Regions from separate parts of the Homo sapiens genome. Here region 1 is linked to region 2. The links come from fine-mapping of genetic effects on gene expression. A gene starts in region 2. The other region holds a variant in brackets. All regions are shown on one strand. Distances are from middle to middle. Region 1 overlaps SCMH1 (Scm polycomb group protein homolog 1). Region 2 holds the start of SCMH1 (Scm polycomb group protein homolog 1).

Region 1 (9,207 bases), 120 kb after region 2:
ATGAGAGAAAATTACTTTTTTGCAACTATTTTAATAATTGAGTCAGGCAAGAGTAACCAATAAATGCTTAAACTATTAGGTAAAAAAACATACTGAGGAATAGGATGTTCACAGTCTCAAAGTTTCTCTCCACTGATTGCCTGTAAATTACAAAGGGAAATTACAGTGAAGAACACTGTCAATCACCTCTTAACATGTGATCAAATTTTGTATCTTCAGTAATTAGACAAACTGACATTATGTGCCTCCTGCAGTATTGCAATGAGAAATACTCCACATCACCTGTATAATATTTTTTATCAAATCTCTTTAGCAGGCCAGGCCTAGCAGTTTATGCCTGTAATCAGAGCCAGCACTTTGGGAGGCTGAGGCGGAATGATTACTTGAGGCCAGAAATTCAAGACCAGCCTGGGCAATATAGCAAGTCCCCCATCACTACAAAAAATAGAAAAATTGGCCAGGTGTGGTGGTGCACACCCTTAGTCCTAGTTGCTCAGGGGGATCACCTGAGCCCAGGAGTTGAAGGCTGCTGTGAGCCATGATTGCACCACTGCACACCAGCCTGGGCAACAGAGAAAGACCCTGTCTCAAAATAAATAAATAAATAAATAAATAAATAAATAAGCTCTTCAGCATGAATGTAATTATGAGGAAACGATCAGAAGAAGTCCAAACTGTGGGACATTCTGTAAAACAATCCAGACTCTTCAAAAATGTCAGTGTCATACAAAGCAAACAAAAGGCAACAGGACTATTATACATGAATTCTACATTAAAGGAGACTGAAGAAACATGACAACCAATTGCAGTATGTGATTCTTGATTGGATCCTGTATTTAAAAATCAACAGTTTTAAAGAACATTTTAGGGACAAATGAGAATATTTTTAATTAAATTTCCTGAGTGTGATAATACTGCAATTTTGTAGGGGAATGTCTTTTTTCAAATATACTGATATATTTAGGGGTGAAGTGTCGTAACATCTCCAACTTTCATATAGTTCAGGGGTGGAAGCATTAATATATGTAGATGAAAAGCAGATGTGGGAAAATGGTAATAGTTGTTGAATCTAGTTGAAGGGTACATAATTGTTCATTATATAGTTTTTGCTATTTTCTCTAGGTTTATAACTTTTCAAAATAAAATTAAAAAAATAAAATTATTTATATATAATTGTACATATGTTTGTGTGTCCATGTTCCCCAGGCCTTCTCTGGACTTCTTTCTAGAGTTGCTGAATCAGAAGCTCTAGGTAATGGGGCTTGGGATTCTGCATGGCAAAATGGCTCTCCTGAGATACTGACACAACTGGTCTATATTTGGAAAACATTGCTCTGGAAGAGCATCCTTTTCCATTAAAATCTTGCATGGTGTATATGTATACGTATGTGTGTTCTGTTCTCATAAGGGATATTACTCTTTTGCAGTGGAGTCCTCCAAGGATAAAACATGTAGTAGAGTAGAATGATTCTCCTCAGTTATCTCAAAGCTGCCACTCTTCTCCTCACAGCTCCCTGTTATTACTGACTGATTCTTCTACTTAATACTGTGATTGTTTCTTCTAAAGAGGGCTGTCTAGAGCATAGTTCTCAAACTTGGCTACCTGTTAAAATCACCTAGGGAGCTCTTAAAATTTTCAGGGTCTAGGCCTTAACTTCAGATCAGTTAAATAGGGATTTCTGGGAGTGGATCTGATGTATTCTTTAATGTTCCCTAGGGGATTCCAGTCCAAGTTTGAGAGTCACTGAGCTGGAGTAGAAGCTAGCCTTTAATGAGGCCCCTAGTCAAGTGAGTCACGATCTCAGTGTAAACTGCTTACCCAGCAAATTTGGTCACATGCTTTAGTATATACAGTAACTTCAAAGGAATCCTTTGTATGTTTCTGTCACTGATCAATTCCTGGTGTGAATGCTCTTCTGTTACCTGCCACCAGAGGGCATGGACTATGATTAGATTATAGTCCTGCTGCTCCACATGTATGTATGTATGTATTGAGGCAGAGTCTCGCTGTGTCACTCAGGCTGGAATGCAGCGTCACAATCATAGCTCACTGCAGCCTCGACATCCCCAGGCTACAGCAGTCATCCTGCATGAGCCTTCCACGTAGCTGGGACTACAAGCACACACCACCACACCCAGCTAATTTTTTGTATTTTTTGTAGAAACAGGGTCTCACTGTGTTGCCCAGGCTGGTCTTTAAATTTTGGGCTGAAGTGATCCTCCTGCGTCAGTCTCCCAAAATGCTGCGATTACAGGTGAAAGCCACTGTGCCCGGCCTGCAGCTCCACTCTTAAATCCAGTTTCATCAGCTGGCCAGTTTAAAGAGATGGACCCTAGCTTATCCAGTGGTCCCATAGTCTTGGGAGCACCTAGAAGCACTTTAGAAGTGGTTCTTTATGAAGTTTTAAAAAATGAATCCTTGGTAAACACAGAGCACTTGCAGCCTGTGTTTGGAATTAAAAGAGATCTGACTTTGTAATATTAACTTAGCCACTCACTACCTTAGTTGTGTGACTACTGGTAAGTTGCTTTACCTTGACTTGTAACGTTGAGTTTCAGTGCCCTTACCTGCAAGATGATTAATAAATTCTTCCCCATGTTGTTTTTGTGGATTAAGTGGAATAACATAATAAAGCGTTCATCAATTCTTGGCACCCATTTAATAAATGGAGGGTTTTTTCCTTAATTCAATAAAACTATCAAGGATTTTGTATTCTAGTTGGAGAAGACATACACATTAAACTTTTTAAAAAGAAAATTCAGATGGTGATAGGGGCTAGGAATAAATAAGAAGGAAGCAGGATAGATTTAGGAGTCTATTTTGGGTAAAGTAGTCAAGGAACACCTTTCTGAGGAAGTGATGTCTCAGCAAATAACTAACTGTAAAGAGTTGATTAAAAGGTGTTTGAGGCAGAGGGAAACAGCTTGGTATATTTGAGAACAGAAAGACCAATGAATAGGGGTACAAGGGAGTGATAAGAGATGAGTAATGAGGAGTAAGCAAGGTCCAGATCATGTAAGCCTTGTAAACATGAATAATAAAGAGTTTAGATCTGTTTTGTGTTGTGAAATTTGAGCATAAGGTAATGTGACCTGATTTATATTTTTAAAAACATAACCATATTATTCTGGCTGCAAAAGTAGAGGGCTGAGGTCCAGTTAGAAGGCTGTTGGAGTTGTCTAGGCAAAGTTTGACTCTGGCTTAAATTAGGGTAATATAGCAGTAGAGATGGTGAAATGTGGGTCGATCTAGCATATATTAAGTGGGAAAGCCATCAAGACTTGCTGATTAATTGGGTTTGGTGGGTGATAGAAAGGGAAGAATCAAGGATGACTTCTAGTCTTTTAGGTCTGAGCACCTGGGTTTAATAAGGGGTGCCACCTATTAAACTGAGATGGGATAACTGGAGGAAAGAACAAGTTTGGAGGGAATAGTAGAATCAAGAGTACTGTCTTAAACTTATTCATTTTACG[T/A]TTTCTTAGACATCCAAGTAGAGTTATAGACTGAGGTAGTTGGATATATGAACATGAAACCCTGAGCAGAGGTTTTGGCTAGATATATAAATTGACAGTCATCATTTAACAGGAAGAAAGTGGGGACCAAGAAGAAGACAGAAGCAATGACTGAGCACTGAGGTGCTCTACATTTAGAGATTAGGATTTCCTCTTACCCACCTGTCCTTTTCCTTATAGACAGCCTAGGTCGTTGCCTAATTTGAATAGAGCCTCAAATTACTGTTTTCATCTTCCTTCTTTTCTCTCTTTCACAAGTTTATGACTCCAACCCTTCTTACCTAGAGACAGTGTGGTAGGACTGAGTGATAAAATATTTGACGATATTAATGTGATGATTAGTTATGAAAGCTCTGGAGACGGAGTAGTTGGGTTCAAATCCTGGCTCTGCTATTTACTAACTTACTAACTTTGGATATTTTACTTAATTTCTCTAAGCCTCAGTTTTTTCATCTATAGTTACAAAAATAATAGCCAATGTTTATCTAACTCCTGCCTGTATGCCAGGCAGTGTTTTAAGTCCTTTGCATGTATTAGCCTATTTAATCTTTAGAACAACCCATTGATTCTTATCCCATGCTGTTGTTGAGGAAACTGAAGCTAGAGAGAGGTTTTGTAATTTTCCAAAAGTTATGTACCTGGTAAGTGGCAAAGCTGGATTTAAATTCAGGCAGTCTGGCACCAGAAACTGCTACTCCTCTAGTATCTGATTCAGAATAGTAGTAGTGATCCACTGCAAATGCTTAGCACAAGGAGCTGGCTCATGATATGTGTACAATAAATGTTAACTTTTGGAGGCAACATAGTGTAATAAAAGAGATAGTGTAATAAACATAGTGTAATAAAAGAGAACCAAATAAGAAGTCCTGGGGTTCCAGCCTGACAGTGTAAGATTGGCTTGTGTGACCATGAACAAGTTTCTTAGCCTCTCTGGACTTCAGTTTCATCATCTGCAATGTAAGATCTTTGTACTTCATGGCCTCTGAGGTCCCTTTCAATGTTAAAATTATCTACTATCTATGATTGCCCAAGAATATTGAGGTAAATTATGGATATACTTGAATTTGAAGGGATAGAGTCCCACATCACCTAGCGGATTGAGGAATAAGATACCTTAGCAATTTCTTGGGTTCAAAATATTTCTGCTTTGCCCCTGTACTCTTGAAGAATCCTGCTGGTAGTGAAACATAGTAAAGAACCACAAAGTTTGGTATCCAACCACCATATATTGAAATCTGTCTCCGGCATTTACTAGCATGACCCTAGACAAGCTGCTTCTCTGAGTTTTCATTTTTTATCATCTGTAGAGTAGGGATAATAATAGTGCCTGCCCATGTTATTTCAAATATTGAGTAAGAAATGGCATATAAAATGTTTAATACATGGTAAGCATTCAATATATATTAACTATTATGATAATATTGTAATGATTTCCAAAGCTGAGAGGATTTTTTAGCTCCTTAAGCTTCAGATGAGATAGAAACCCCCCAGTAACCCCTACCTCAAAAATGGAATTGGGAATTACATGGCTAGGCACTCTAGTCATTGATAACTATAGGCATTAAACCTGAATTTTCTAATTGTGCAGGCCTCCCTATACCAAGGTGTATAGACCACTTCTCTAAAACAGTAGTGCCTTGCTTTACCTTATCCATAGGTGTACCAAACCACTCATGGCAAAGCTGCTCTGGGTTTGGCTTGCTTCAGCCCTTCCCTGACCTAAGGAGAGTTGTTTTCCCACATAAACACCACGCTTGAATTTCTGGAGGGATTTAATTTTTTTAAACCATTGTCAAAAGAAGAGTAGCAGTTAAAAACCCAGCTCAAACCAGATTAGAGAGGGAAAAAAGGAGGAGGCAGGAATTATTAACTCATATAACCAAGAAGTCCAAGGATTTATCTGGTGTTGAGTGTCTGAGTACTGGGTTTTAAACACTATTATGTGTCTCCATCCCATGCTGTACTTTGGCTTTATTCTCAGGTCTGTTCTCCATGTAGCAGTGCCCAAACTGCAAACATCCTTATGGGCATGTTCTCAGACAAAGAAAGATGTTCTTCTCCAACGTCAATCTCATGTCAAAAAACAACTGGCCTAACATGGGACATAGACACATATACACTCTTGGTCTAGGGGAATTTGATGCTCTTAAACAGCATTGTGTTTTACCCCAAGGCCAGGTAGGTAAGGACCACATATGTGGTTGACGTGCCCACCAAATCATGTGGAGTTACGGTGGGGTTTTTTTTTTTTTGTTTTTTTTTTGCCCTAAAGGGAAAAAAAAGCTGGGCAAGCAAAAAGGAAGTGATGGCAGTTTTAGATTGAGTGATAGGAAAGTCCACATTGCTGTTGATATGGATGGGCTGTCCCAAGAAATCTCTTTACCTTGGGAAGGCTGGCTTAGCCTAGCCAGCTTTGGGACTAAAAGTTTAAATAGTATGGAGTGGTAACTCTTTTTTTATTTGCATTTCCTTGTCACCTCCTCCTCCTAACTTTAATTACAGTTGTTAATTGATACTTTTTTCCAAAAGCTGAATCTTCCCTTTTCATTTTACCCATACATTGCCAGTTTTAAAGTGTGGGCTCAGGAGTCAGATTGCCTGAATTTTAATCCTGTCTTTTCGTTTGCTCACTTTGAAATCTTAAGCAATTTATTTAACTTCAAATAAATTGTACCTGTTTCCTCATCTATAAAATGAAGATAATATCTACCTCCTAGGGCTGTCTTGAGGATTAGATAGTCAATAGAAAGTGATTGGCATAGTGAACAGTAAAGTGCTCAATAACATCAGATACTGCTGCTGCTGTTATTTCCAGCTTTGCAGCTTGGGTGCAGCTTATCTGTTCTTTTGTTTGGAGTGGGAAGGCTGAGGTAGTTTGGGAAATGCTCAAAAAACATTAGGTTTTGTTATCTCAGGATGCAGAGTTGAAGCAAATTGAAAGAAGCACTTGGGGCTCTAATTGGAAGACCTAACTGTAATAATGATCTTATTTTTACAATTCATTGATAGGTGATAATGGACAGTTAACCTCTCTAGGCTTCTTTTTACTCTTTTGCAAAATGAAGATTTTTGGATAGGACAATCCTTTCCAATGTCATTCCTTGGTCCTTAGTTGTTTAAGTAAACAATGAACTTCAGAAAGTATTTTGTACTTGGTGTGTGTATGTGTGCAAGACAGAAAGTGATAAGAGAAGTAGTGAGTTAGTTTACATTGAGAGGAACCAAAATGATTTACTTATATATTGGGTTTATCGGTTGACATGTTTGGTTTCTTCTTAAGAGATTATTAGATCCCCTTTCATACTCTACTGTCCAGATCATCTCTAAGTATTCGTTAATCCTATCACATCTTTTTTGGATTTTTCAAATGCCTAGAAAGTTTTCTAGGCATTACGTTATGTGTTCTGTAGTACTTGTCTTAGGAAACTTGGTTTGGAGACTCTGTCCCACTATTTACTTTACAGCATTACCTTGGACAAGTTACATTCTCTCTTATGTGCCTCATTTTCTTCATCTGTCTAATGAGGTGTTTCTCCTTTTTAACCCTTAAGTCCTTTCTTAACAGTCTGTGATTCTGTAACTATCACAGCATAGGAGTAGCTGGATTCTAAAGGCTGAACTTGATATCATAATGTAGAGTCCAGCCCCACAGGGTTGGTGGGTTTTCTCCCTGTGTGCGGAGACAAGAGAGTGTAGAAATAAAGACACAAGACGAAGAGATAAAAGACAGCTGGGCCCAGGGGGACCACTGCCACCAAGACACAGAGACCAGTAGTGGCCCTGAATGCCAGGCTGCGCTGATATTTATTGGATACAAGACAAAGGGGCAGGGTAAGGAGTGTGAGCCGTCTCCCATGATAGGTAAGGTCACGTGGGTCACGTGTCCACTGGACAGGGGGCCCTTCCCTGCCTGGCAGCCGAGGCAGAGAGAGAGAGAGGAGAGAGAGAGAGACAGCTTACGCCATTATTTCTACTAATCAGAGACTTTTAGTACTTTCACTAATTTGCTACTGCTAACTAAAAGGCAGAGCCAGGTGTACAGGATGGAACATGAAGGCGAACTAGGAACATGACCACTGAAGCACAGCATCACAGGGAGACAGTTAGACCTTTGGATAACTGCAGGCGGGCCTGACTGACGTCAGGCCCTCCGCAAGAGGTGGAGGAGTAGAGTCTTCTCTAAACTTCCCCGGGGAAAGGGTGACTCCCTTTCCCGGTCTCTAAGTAATGGGTGTTTTTCCTTGACACTGACGCTACCACTAGACCACGGTCCGCTTGGCAACGGGCGTCTTCCCAGACGCTGGTGTTACCGCTAGACCAAGGAGCCCTCTGGTGGCCCTGTCCGGGCATAACAGAAGGCTCGCACTCTTGTCTTCTGGTCACTTCTCACTATGTCCCCTCAGCTCCTATCTCTGTATGGCCTGGTTTTTCCTAGGTTATGATTGTAGAGCGAGGATTATTATAATATTGGAATAAAGAATAATTGCTACAAACTAATGATGAATGATATTCATATATAATCATATCTATGATCTATATCTAGTATAACTATTCTTATTTTATATATTTTATTATACTGGAAGAGCTCGTGCCCTCGGTCTCTTGCCTCGGCACCTGGGTGGCTTGCCACCCACATCACCATTCATTTTTGAAACATACTTTTAATCTGTTGCCCATTATGCTTGCTGCAGGATTTCGGCTGAATGCGTCTTCTTGGCCCATGTTCCTTTTGAAGACGCTAAATGGAGCAGAGATGGCTCCCATCAGGATTTTCCACAAGGTAGGCTATCCCTCAGATATCACCAGCTCCAGGCTGCTTAAGGTCAAATATTGAGACTTTGATGTCCACATTTACTTATGGCCTGAAGATGCCTTCTCAGAAATTAGTTCAGAAGGATTTTTTAGTAGCTTATGAAGCAGCAATTATCCCCAGAGGAATATATTAGACTATAAGGTCCCATAGATTAGATTATATGGTCCCAGCTTCCAGTAATCTCTGTTTACCTGTCGGGCTTGTTAAGAAGTTAAAATGTATTATTAGTAGAATATGTTAAATGTAATACAAATCTAAAGGCGCTATTCTTATTATAGATCTTGGAGTTCTGTAGAGTTCATGTTCTAAACAGAGAAAAGAAGGAGACTTTTTTTATTGCCTACGATATGTTTGGGACTTTATATATACTATCTCATGTAATACCCACAGCTAACTTTATGAACTAAGAATTATTATTTCCATTTAATAGTTAAGGAAACAAATACTTTTGAATTAGGAGCTTGCTCAAGATCACGTGGCTAGTAAGCGGCAGAACAGGGATCCAAAACCTGTATTTGTTATTGCTTCTCAAGAAGTGAGGCAGTGAGTCTATCAGTTGAATTTTCTAATGGGGTAAAAGTTACTGTAAAGGGTATTAAATTAGGTTTGCCTATGCTGCTAGTTAAGTCTCAACACTAAGAGCATCCTGCTTCTGAATTACCTAGCACTTATGTAACTCAGGAGTAGTTCTTGTATTCTTTGGGACTAGAAATAAAGATGAGTTTTAGACTTTGTTATGCCAGCTGTGCAGTAAAGGGATCTACCAAAAGACTCCAAGTAGAATGTTTAACTTCCGGATCAGTGGAGGGGGAAAATAGAAGAAAACTTAGTTGATTGAAAAGGAGAAAAAAGAACTTTGGAAATTCAAATTAAATAGAAAC
Region 2 (9,207 bases):
CATCTTCTACCAAAGAAATACCCTTCTTGAATGTGTCCAGTGATGTATTCATTTCCCCAAGAGTATTATCCCATTGTTTGCCCATGAATGCTAGCATCATCAAGTAGAACTCTGTTTCTCTGTCTACTCTGTCCATTAAGAGAAAGGGAAGGAAGGGAATGGTGTTCACTTACTGAGCACCGTTTGTGTACCAGACACATGTGAGAGTCTTGGATATGTTACCTCACTTGATTCCTGAAACATCCCTATAAAGTAGATGTTCAATTTACAAACTAAAAAAAAAAAAATAGTTCAGAAAGTTTAAATAATGTGCCCAAATTTACCCATGGTCAGTGGAAGAGTCAAGTCCATGGACTCTCTTTGGTATGCTGAGAGGCCTTGTCTTCCCTGCCTCCTATCTCTCTTCAGTGTAGCTCTTTCAGCAAGCTGTGCTAGAGATTTCCTTTTAAAATAAAAATCTGCTTAAAGGCCTTTGATGGCTCTTCAATACCCACTCAAGGTAAATAGTTCAATACCCACTCAAGGTAAATAGTCCAAGCTCTTTAGCTAATAATCAAGGCCCTTGACAATCTGGCTCCAGTCAAATATTGCAGGCTCACTTCCCTCTTCTTTTCCGATGCATCCTAGGTTTTCCATGAGGATGCCTTTTTGTCTTTGTTCATGCTGTACTTGCTGCCTATGTGTCCTTCCCCTCCTTCTCTGCCTAAAAAAGTCCTAGTTTTCCTTTAAGGTCCACTCAAATGTCACCTTCTTGGTGAAGTCTTCCCCAGTATCTCTGGGCTCAATGAACCCTCCTCTGCCTTCTCCATATTACAGAGGACATTGCAAAGTCCTCTGTAATAGCCTTTTTTGCATTGTCATGGTCCCTTGTAGACTGAGATCCTTAAAGACACGGATTGTACTTTACATTTATTTGCATTCCCAGTTCCTGGCACATAATAGGAGTTCCATAGATATGTGTGGAATAGAATTGAGGCCTAATCCTTTTCCACATGTTAGCCCTTCAATTATCTGAAGACCCTTCTAAGGCCTTGCCCTACCCCACTCTACTCCCATTAGTAGTTATTTCTTCTGCAGGCTAAATGTTCCCAACTCCTTTCAGCTGCTCCTTATAAAGTCTGATTTCCAGATTCCTTATCTGGTCATTTGCTTCTGGGTCATAATTTGTCAACATCACTCTTTTAAAATATAATGCCTAGGACAAACTCAATAGCCCAAAGTCTGGCCATAGCAGAACAAAGTGAGGGGATTCCAAACTGTGATTCCAATCTATGACGTTTTCTTGGCCATTACTGTGTGCCAGGAGGTCTTTCTACTTTATTTTCTTTCAGTCTTCAATAATCTGGTGAGGTAGGTGTCATTTCTTCCATTTTATAGATGAGGATATAAGCCATCTGGTAAGGCACTTTGAGAATAAGTTAAAGTCACAATTCCAGAGCATAAAGCAAACTTGTGATCAACTGATACCTTTAGATCATTCGTACATCAACTGCTGTAAAGTTATTATTTTTTCCAGTTACCGGCTAGTGACAGGCTTAAGGGAAACTGAGGACAAAGAATCAGTACCTTTAGAAGGGTGTGAAACCAAAGCATACAGAAAAGGCAGGTTGGATTAATGACCACCTTCCTAACAATAACAGCCTTTATCTAGGAGCTCAGAGACTGGAATGTCTTAACCACACAGCTTCCTGGAACTATTTTTACTTTGTATTTTACAAGAGGAGAAAGAGCAGAAGCGTCTTAGATAAACAACAAGGTTTGGGCTCAGCACATGTCTGAATCTGAACAGCCAGTGGGGCCCTGTGGTCACAAGGCAGATAATAAGGAGGTTGCCTCTTTGGTCTGTGGCTTGGGTCTGAAAGGGTCCTACTGTGCACATTCATTCTATAAATATAGACTGATCACCAAATGTGTTCCAGGTATGGTGCGAGGTGCTGTGGATGTAATGAAGAACAAAGACAGAGTTCCAATCTGTGGAGCTTACAGTCAGGTGAAAGATAAGCATAAATGAAAATGATATGCACAGATCCTAGTAAATGCAATGATGAATGAAGGTGCCAGGCTACAAGGAGAGCGAAAGGAGGGGCATTTAATTTATCCTGGGGTGAGGATGGAAGAGAAGGTATCAGAGGAAGTTCCTGGGGAAGGTAGTCTTAATTGATGTGTAGGACTTAATGTGGTGAAGGCTCTTATGTATTTCAATGCATCCCCCCCACACCCCGCAACACACATACTTTCTTTAAGCATCAGAAACCATCTTTCCCATTTCCTTTACCAACTCTTCTACTGGGTCATCAACAACATGAAAAAAAACAAAAACAAAAAACAAAACAAAAACTACTGTTTTTGTCAGTTCTGTCAGTGCCAGAATAATCACTCCTTTTTGCTGTAATGTAATGTAGAAAAGAGCAGACCTGGGGTTTCCTAGCATACCTCCTTTAAAAAAAAATTACATCCTGATTAACTTGCCTATTTCTTCCCTCTCCATTGCCTCTGTATTTCTTGGCTTCCCCACACCTGTAACCCAAAGGTCACAGGGTCTGTCATAGCCCAATTCCACTCTCCAGTTGCCTCTTGGTTTTTAACCCCCCTTATTAAAATCCAAACATTAAGCAACTAATAACACCCATGTGTAATTAGTTGTTTAATTGAACAGCACAGAACTGTTAATACATTATGCTGTGCCCTGGAATATTAAGTGGAATAAAAGCAAAGTACTATATTCAAGGAAACTACAGTCTGACTTAAAATACTACAATGGGAAACATTTCACACAGAGATTTTTACCAAGTGACAGTGGAGAGGAGGGAGAAATGAGTTCTTCCTGAGAAGTGTCAGAGAAGTTCTGAGCTGGATCTAAAAAAGAAGCAGGAGGCTGGGTGTGGTGGCTCACGCCTGTAATCCCAGCACTTTGGGAGGCCAAGGAGGGCGGATCACAAGGTCAGGAGATTGAGACCATCCTGGCTAACATGGTGAAACGCTGTCTCTACTAAAAATACAAAAAATTAGCTGGGCGTGGTGGCAGGCGCCTGTAGTCCCACCTACTCAGGAGGCTGAGGCAGGAGAATGGCGTGAACCCGGAAGATGGAGCTTGCAGTGAGCCGAGATCATGCCACTGCACTCCAAACTGGATGACAGAGCGAGACTCCATCTCAAAAAAAAAAAAAAGCAGGAATCCAAAGGACAATATGCATAATATTTATTTATTTTTAGCAGATGTGGGAATATCTCCCTCATGCCAAGCCTTATCTAAGGCTACAGGTGTGAATAAGGTTCCTGATCTCAAGACGCTTTCAGCCTAGAAAAGAGGTTTAGAAATATACTCCAATAATGGCAACATATATGGTGCCATGGACAGAGTTACAGAACAAACTGCTAGGGGAATTCATAGAGAAAATGTTCAAGAGAACATTTCTCACTGGACGTAGTAGGCAGAATTCTAAGGTAGCTTCCTAGATTAACCTTCATGTACACCTTCTGCATAGTCCCTGGGACAGTGGCTATGATGAATTTTACTCCTGTGATTAGGGTATGTGATGTGGCACAGGTGATCTTAAAGTAGGAAGATTATCTAGGTGGGTCTGACCTAATTACAAGTCTTTTAAAAGCTCATAGTGTTCTCTGACTGGTTGAAGAAGGGAAATCAGAGATATTTAAAGAATGAGAGGGAGTGACATGAGAAAGGTTCTCTGTTGATGAGATAAAAGGGATCACGTGGCAAGGACCTGAGAGTGGTCCCCAACAGAGAGCTGGCAAAACAGTGTAGCTGTGGGATCCTAGTCCTACAGGGACATGAATTCTGCCAACAGCCCGAAGGAGCCTGGGGCAGACCTTTCCCTCGTGGAGGTGCTAGACATCTTGATTTCAGCCTATGACACCACGAGCAGAAAACCCAGCCACACCATGCCAGTTTTCCGACCTACACAACTGTGAGTAAATCAATGGGTGTTGCTTTAAGCTGCAAAATTTGTGCCAATTTGTTATGCAGGAATAGAAAACTAATATGAGCACTTACAACACTGTGCTCTCATTAGCTATTGACATAATAGTTTCCCCAAATATGGGCTCCTTAGATTTAGGCTCTAATTATCCTTGTAACCTCAGGGCTCTTCATGAGACAGGTACTCCCCAAAACGCCATGGAATGAAAGTTTAAATTAGACAACAGGGATGCAGATCAGAACCTGGATAGATTCTGACCATTTCCATTTCTCAAGAATGGGCAGACGGATACTGACACCAATACCAGGATACAAGGAGGCGGCCCCCCTTCAGTCCAAAGCTCTAAGACCTATTCTAGAGGCAAGGCAAGTAATCCAGGCTCAGCTGCCCCATCTGCTGCTCCAGCCTTGCTTAAGTGGACTTCCCTCCAAGGAACATTGTTCACAGAAGGATCATTAACAAGACATTCCTGTGTGACCTGAGGATTGCCATGTTCTAAATGATGCCCACACCCACTCCACATCCAGCTCAGCAGAGGTCTCGGGATTTATATTGCACTGTATTTTCAAGCAGCCAAAACAGAAGTCAAGACGTCAGTTTCCTAAGCTGCTAAAATGATGTGGTGGTTAAACCAATTGTGTGCCAGGCGCAGTGGCTCACGCCTGTAGTCCCAGCGCTTTGGGAGGCTGACGCAGGAGGATCACTTGAGCCCAGTAATTTGAGGTTACAGTGAGCTATGATGGCGCCACTGCACTCCGACCTTGGGGACAAAGTGAGGCTCCATCTCTAACAAAACAAAAATAGAATTGTGTAGCCAACATGGCTGGTGGGCCTGGAAGAATGAGCCTGTGCATTGTACCTGGCCCATCACGGGCTCAGTGCGTACTCGTTGAAGGGATCACCACAGGGAGGACCGAGGACGCTGACACTCCCTAGGGCATCCAAGCACCAACTCATCTCTCACCTACCCTCCGGGTGCAGTGCTATCGTGTTGGAGAAGAGGCCCCTGGGTGGCTGTGCGAAGTAACTCGCCCAAGGTCACCACACGGCCAGCCACTAGCCCGGCGGGAGTCGCCCGAGGCGAGGCCCACGTCAGCCGGTCTTGGGGGCCCGACCGGTGGCTCCTCCACCAGCCCCACGCGGCCTCAGAGCGGGCTACTGGCGTCCTCGAGATTCGAACCCGAGTCCTCGGCCTCGTCCCCGCCCTCGCGCCCTCTCAGGCCTCAGTTTTCCCATCTACAGGACGCAGACCGGAGAGCTGGTCCGGGCGCCAACTGGGCCCCCGGACCCGGGTCGGCAGGCCGGCGGGGTACGGCCGGGCCGGGTTCCCGCGCGCCCTCCCTCCTCCAGCGCGCCGCCCCGCCCCCCGCGCGAGCCCAACGGCCGAGGCGCGCGCCACCTCGCAGCGGGAGGCGCGGGGGAGGGGCCGGGGGAGCCCCCGCCCCGCCCCCCGCCTCAGCCGCCACCGCCAGCTCGGTGGAGCCCCCCGCCGCCCGCCCGCCGCTCTCCCGAGCCGCCCGCCCGCCCCCTTCCCGCGTCTCCGCTCCCTCCCTGCGCAGCGGAAACATGGCGGCGGGAAGAGAGTGAGCCGCCCCGCGCCCCCGCCGCGCCCTCAGGTAAGCGCCTCGCGGCCGCCTCCGCCCGCCTAAGAGCTCGTGCCCTGAGGGGCCGCCTGGGGCCAGAAGGCGGTGGCGGGACCTGCGCAGCCGCTGCGCCTGCTCCCCCGGGCCGGGGTCAGCCTGTCCGTCTGTCTGGCCGGCCTGCCAGTCTGTGGTCCGCGCGGGGCTGGGCCCTTTCTCGGCCGTGTCAGCCCGGCCCCGAGCCCGGAGGCCGGCTCTGCATCTGCGGTCGGGCGGGCGGGGCCCACGGTCCGGTCGCGGCCCTGACGCCGCCAGGACTGCCCGGGGGCCCCGGCACGGGAAACCCAAGGCCGGGGGCCCTTTGGAGGGTCGGCGTGGGGGCGGTCCGTATAGGTCGCCGTGTCTGGCCGGCGGGGCCGGGTGGGCCGGGGCAGGCTGGCTGGGGGCCGAGGGCCGGGCGGCGGCGCGACCCCGTCTGCGCGGGTCAGTCGGTCCCCTCCGGCGCCAGAGGTGGGAATGCCTGTGATTCTGGCTGGCCGGGTCCCGGTTCGGGGAAGGCAGAGACAGAGGTCGACGGGGCGGCGTGGCCCCCACCGAGAGCTGGGGCGCCTAGGGCCCGGAGCTGTCAGCAGCGTCCTGGGGGCTGGGCCCCGGCTGGCCGACTCACGTGTGCCGCCTGCCCCAGTGCCCCGCCGGAAACGGGCAGGGAGAGCGGCCCCGCACCGAAGTGAGCCACAGCGGCCCTGGGGGCCAGACACGTGGGCACAGTTGTGTGCCAGCCCGAGAGCATCGAAAGTGGTATCCAGCCGATGGGTGAACCCCGGAATATCTCCTGACTGGAAGAGAATTTAAAAGTCATCTAGGGGCGCTTTCTCCCATCCCATGCCAAAGTGACTTTGAAAATCCCCAAATCCCCCCGATAATTTGACGAGCCCGTTTGGAACCTCTTCCAGTGATCCGAAGCGAATCTCTTTAAAGGAAACCCATTCTGTTCCTGGACACATTTGGTTATAAGTTGAAAGAAACAGCTGGCTCCCATCCTTCCTAGTTCTTTTCCCTTATGGGAAGCTGTTAAGATATCTGAAGATAGTAATCATGTCCCCTGAGTCTTCACTTCCACTTTCTTCAGTTGTCTCTCATCTGCTGTGGTTCTCTAAACTGTCCTCTGGATGAGCTTTAGTTTCCCCCATCCCCTTAAAGGAGAGTTTCTTAAAAGTGATCCTGGAGACAAAACGTAGTAAGTTTCTCTAAGAAACAGCCCCAAGGATTGACCTGCTTAAATCAAAAGTACTCTAGATTCCCTTCCTCATTTCTGTACTGTATTTTGAACTTAAAAAAAAAAAAAAAAGAAAACATTTAGTAGTGTTTGTTCAAACAAACTAAAAGACATCTTATTTTGTGGAAATTTGGGGGTTTCCTTCCTTTTAAAAAATGTCTATAAACACTTTATCAAATGTTGCTAACTAATGTACATCAAAATGTTTTGTTGAAGTGTAATGTGCCAGGCAAATAGAATAGCTCTTTTTTTTTTTTTAAACTCTGAAAAGGATTGAGACCTAGTTTAGTGCCAAACTGCAATTTTAATATTTGGTTGCAGAGGGAAATGCTTTATTACATTGAACTCTTTGCTCTAGTTCTAACTGCCAGCAGGAGGCCCAAAATTACTATGAAAGAGAACACTTTTTGTTGCTTACTTACCAACCTCCTAAACTCTTGCCTAAGCAACTCTGCAGGTTAGTAATGTTTTAAGCCCAGTAGAGATGAGATGGCCTTGTAGATAAAAGGCCAGGCTCTTACATCTGGGATCCTGTTTAAGTACTAAGCAAAGTTTCAGTGTTTTTACAACTTAGACAAGCACATACCAGCAGTCAGAATTGGTTCTTTATTTTTGTTCTTAAGCCTTCATTTTTTAAATTGGTCAATAGTTTTGAACTTTGTAGCACATATGTCAAGTTTTGATTTTAGGTATGTTTGTGCAAATGTTGTTCCCTTTTATGTAAGTTGGGTAAACATTTGCATAGCACCATTCTCAATGGAACTATACAGATCCAGAGGAAAGGCCCTGATTCCTTCCTTGCAAAGGACTTGGAGTGAAAGGTAGAGGATACTTAACTATGAGAAAGAATTGATGTGAATATCCCACTGAAAATTTAAACTTAGGGCTGGATGCAGGGGCTCATGCCTATAATCCCAGCACTTTGGGAAGCTGAGGCAGGCAACTCTTTGAGGCCAGGAGTTCTGGACCAGCCTGGGCTACGTAGCAAGACCCTGTCTCTACAAAAAATAAAAATAAAAATATAGCTGGGCATGATGGTGTATGTCTGTAGTCTCAGCTACTCAGGAGGCTGAGGCAGGAGGACCGTTTGAGTCAAGGAGTTTGAGGCTTCAGTGAGCCATGATCACGCCATAGCAAGTGACAGAATGAGACCCCATCTTTTAAAAAAGAAAAGAAAATTGGTATGTTCTAACCTTCACTGTACACTTATGTACCTACTATGGGTCAAGCACTATGCTATGTACTGTGCTCAGCTGGGTTTACAAAGATTTCCAATCTTGTGGAGCTGGTAAATTAGATGCTTAAATAGATTATCTCAGAATAAAAGATGAGAACTACGCATAGCTGAGATATACAAGGTGAGAGTAAAGGTTGCCCAAAGGTGAGGGCACTTAGACTAGCCTAGGAGTTAAAGGAAGGCTTTGGGAAGAGATGATATCTGACCCAAATCTTAAATGGTAGGTAGGAGTAAGTGAGGCAAACATGAGCAGAAAGCGTCCTTCAAACAGAGAAAACAGCTTGAGCAAAGGCATCAATGTGAGAAAAGGAATGGCTTGCGTAGAGAACCACAAACAGTTTGGGACTGCTAGGAATATAACAATAAGTGATGAGTTGTAAGGCTGGAAATACAGTCAGAGGCCATGTCGTGGTGGACCTTGTATGCATAAGTATCCTAAAATCAATTCAGTAGGTGTTTTTTTTTTATTTTTATTTAATCACTGGAAGGTGTCTATCAGACATGGTTGAAGTAACATTTTTAAAATGTGGTCATAGGGATGAAGAGAAAGAAATGAATCTGAGAAAATGTATAAGGCTTTAATGATTGATTGTATGTGCAGGTGAGAGGGTGAGGAGTCCCGTGTGATGCTCAGGTTTTTGCCTTGGATGACTAAGGAGGATATGTTGGTAATTTTAACTGAGACAGGAAACGATGATGAGTTCAATTCTGGACTTGAAGATTTTCAATTTCTTGAGTTAGATCAGTGAGCAAATATAGTGGAAGTAAGCTGAGAAAAAAAAGAGGTGTGGTCAGAAAGTGGAATATCGGAGTTAAGTTGTCTGATATTGGGACTGTTCTAGGTGACAGCGAGGTCTCTGTGTATGGGTAGCTAAAATACAGCAGAGGCGAAGGTCAGTAAAGCTGAGTATGACAAGGAATTTGGAGGCTAGTGTATTGAATGAGTCATCTGTGTAGAGAGTGAAGTGATTGAGGATGATGGGATGTGGGGAAGAGAGAAAGATGTGACCCAGGTGCAGTAAAGATAGGGGATTAATCAGGAGGGTGGTAGATGACAGATGAGGAGGTGGGGTAGAGAGTTATATAGCCAGATGGTGCAAACCTTGAAGGAGGAGGGGTTTTTAAACACAAGAGTGAGAAGGTAATAGTTTTTTTACTTTTCCTTCCTGGAAG

The links. PIP is the estimated chance that this variant, and not a neighbour inherited with it, causes the effect.
Region 1: its variant is the best candidate, but not a certain one, in a credible set for the expression of SCMH1 in whole blood (INTERVAL, PIP 0.76).

What each region holds. Positions count from the first base shown.
Region 1 is chr1:41,116,008-41,125,214 of GRCh38, reverse strand. It overlaps SCMH1 (Scm polycomb group protein homolog 1), which reads left to right. Exons shown (of 16, transcript NM_001394311.1): 7 at 8,205-8,293. Among named protein-coding and RNA genes, the nearest start is that of SLFNL1, 99 kb to the right of the region's middle. The variant T/A (reference allele first, on the strand shown) is at 3,475.
Region 2 is chr1:41,238,409-41,247,615 of GRCh38, reverse strand. SCMH1 (Scm polycomb group protein homolog 1) reads left to right here and starts at 5,310. Exons shown (of 16, transcript NM_001394311.1): 1 at 5,310-5,557. It overlaps SCMH1-DT (SCMH1 divergent transcript), which reads right to left and starts at 5,258. Exons shown (of 3, transcript NR_186015.1): 1 at 4,910-5,258. RefSeq lists silencers at 5,000-5,399, 5,440-5,989, 6,090-6,249 and an enhancer at 6,570-6,749.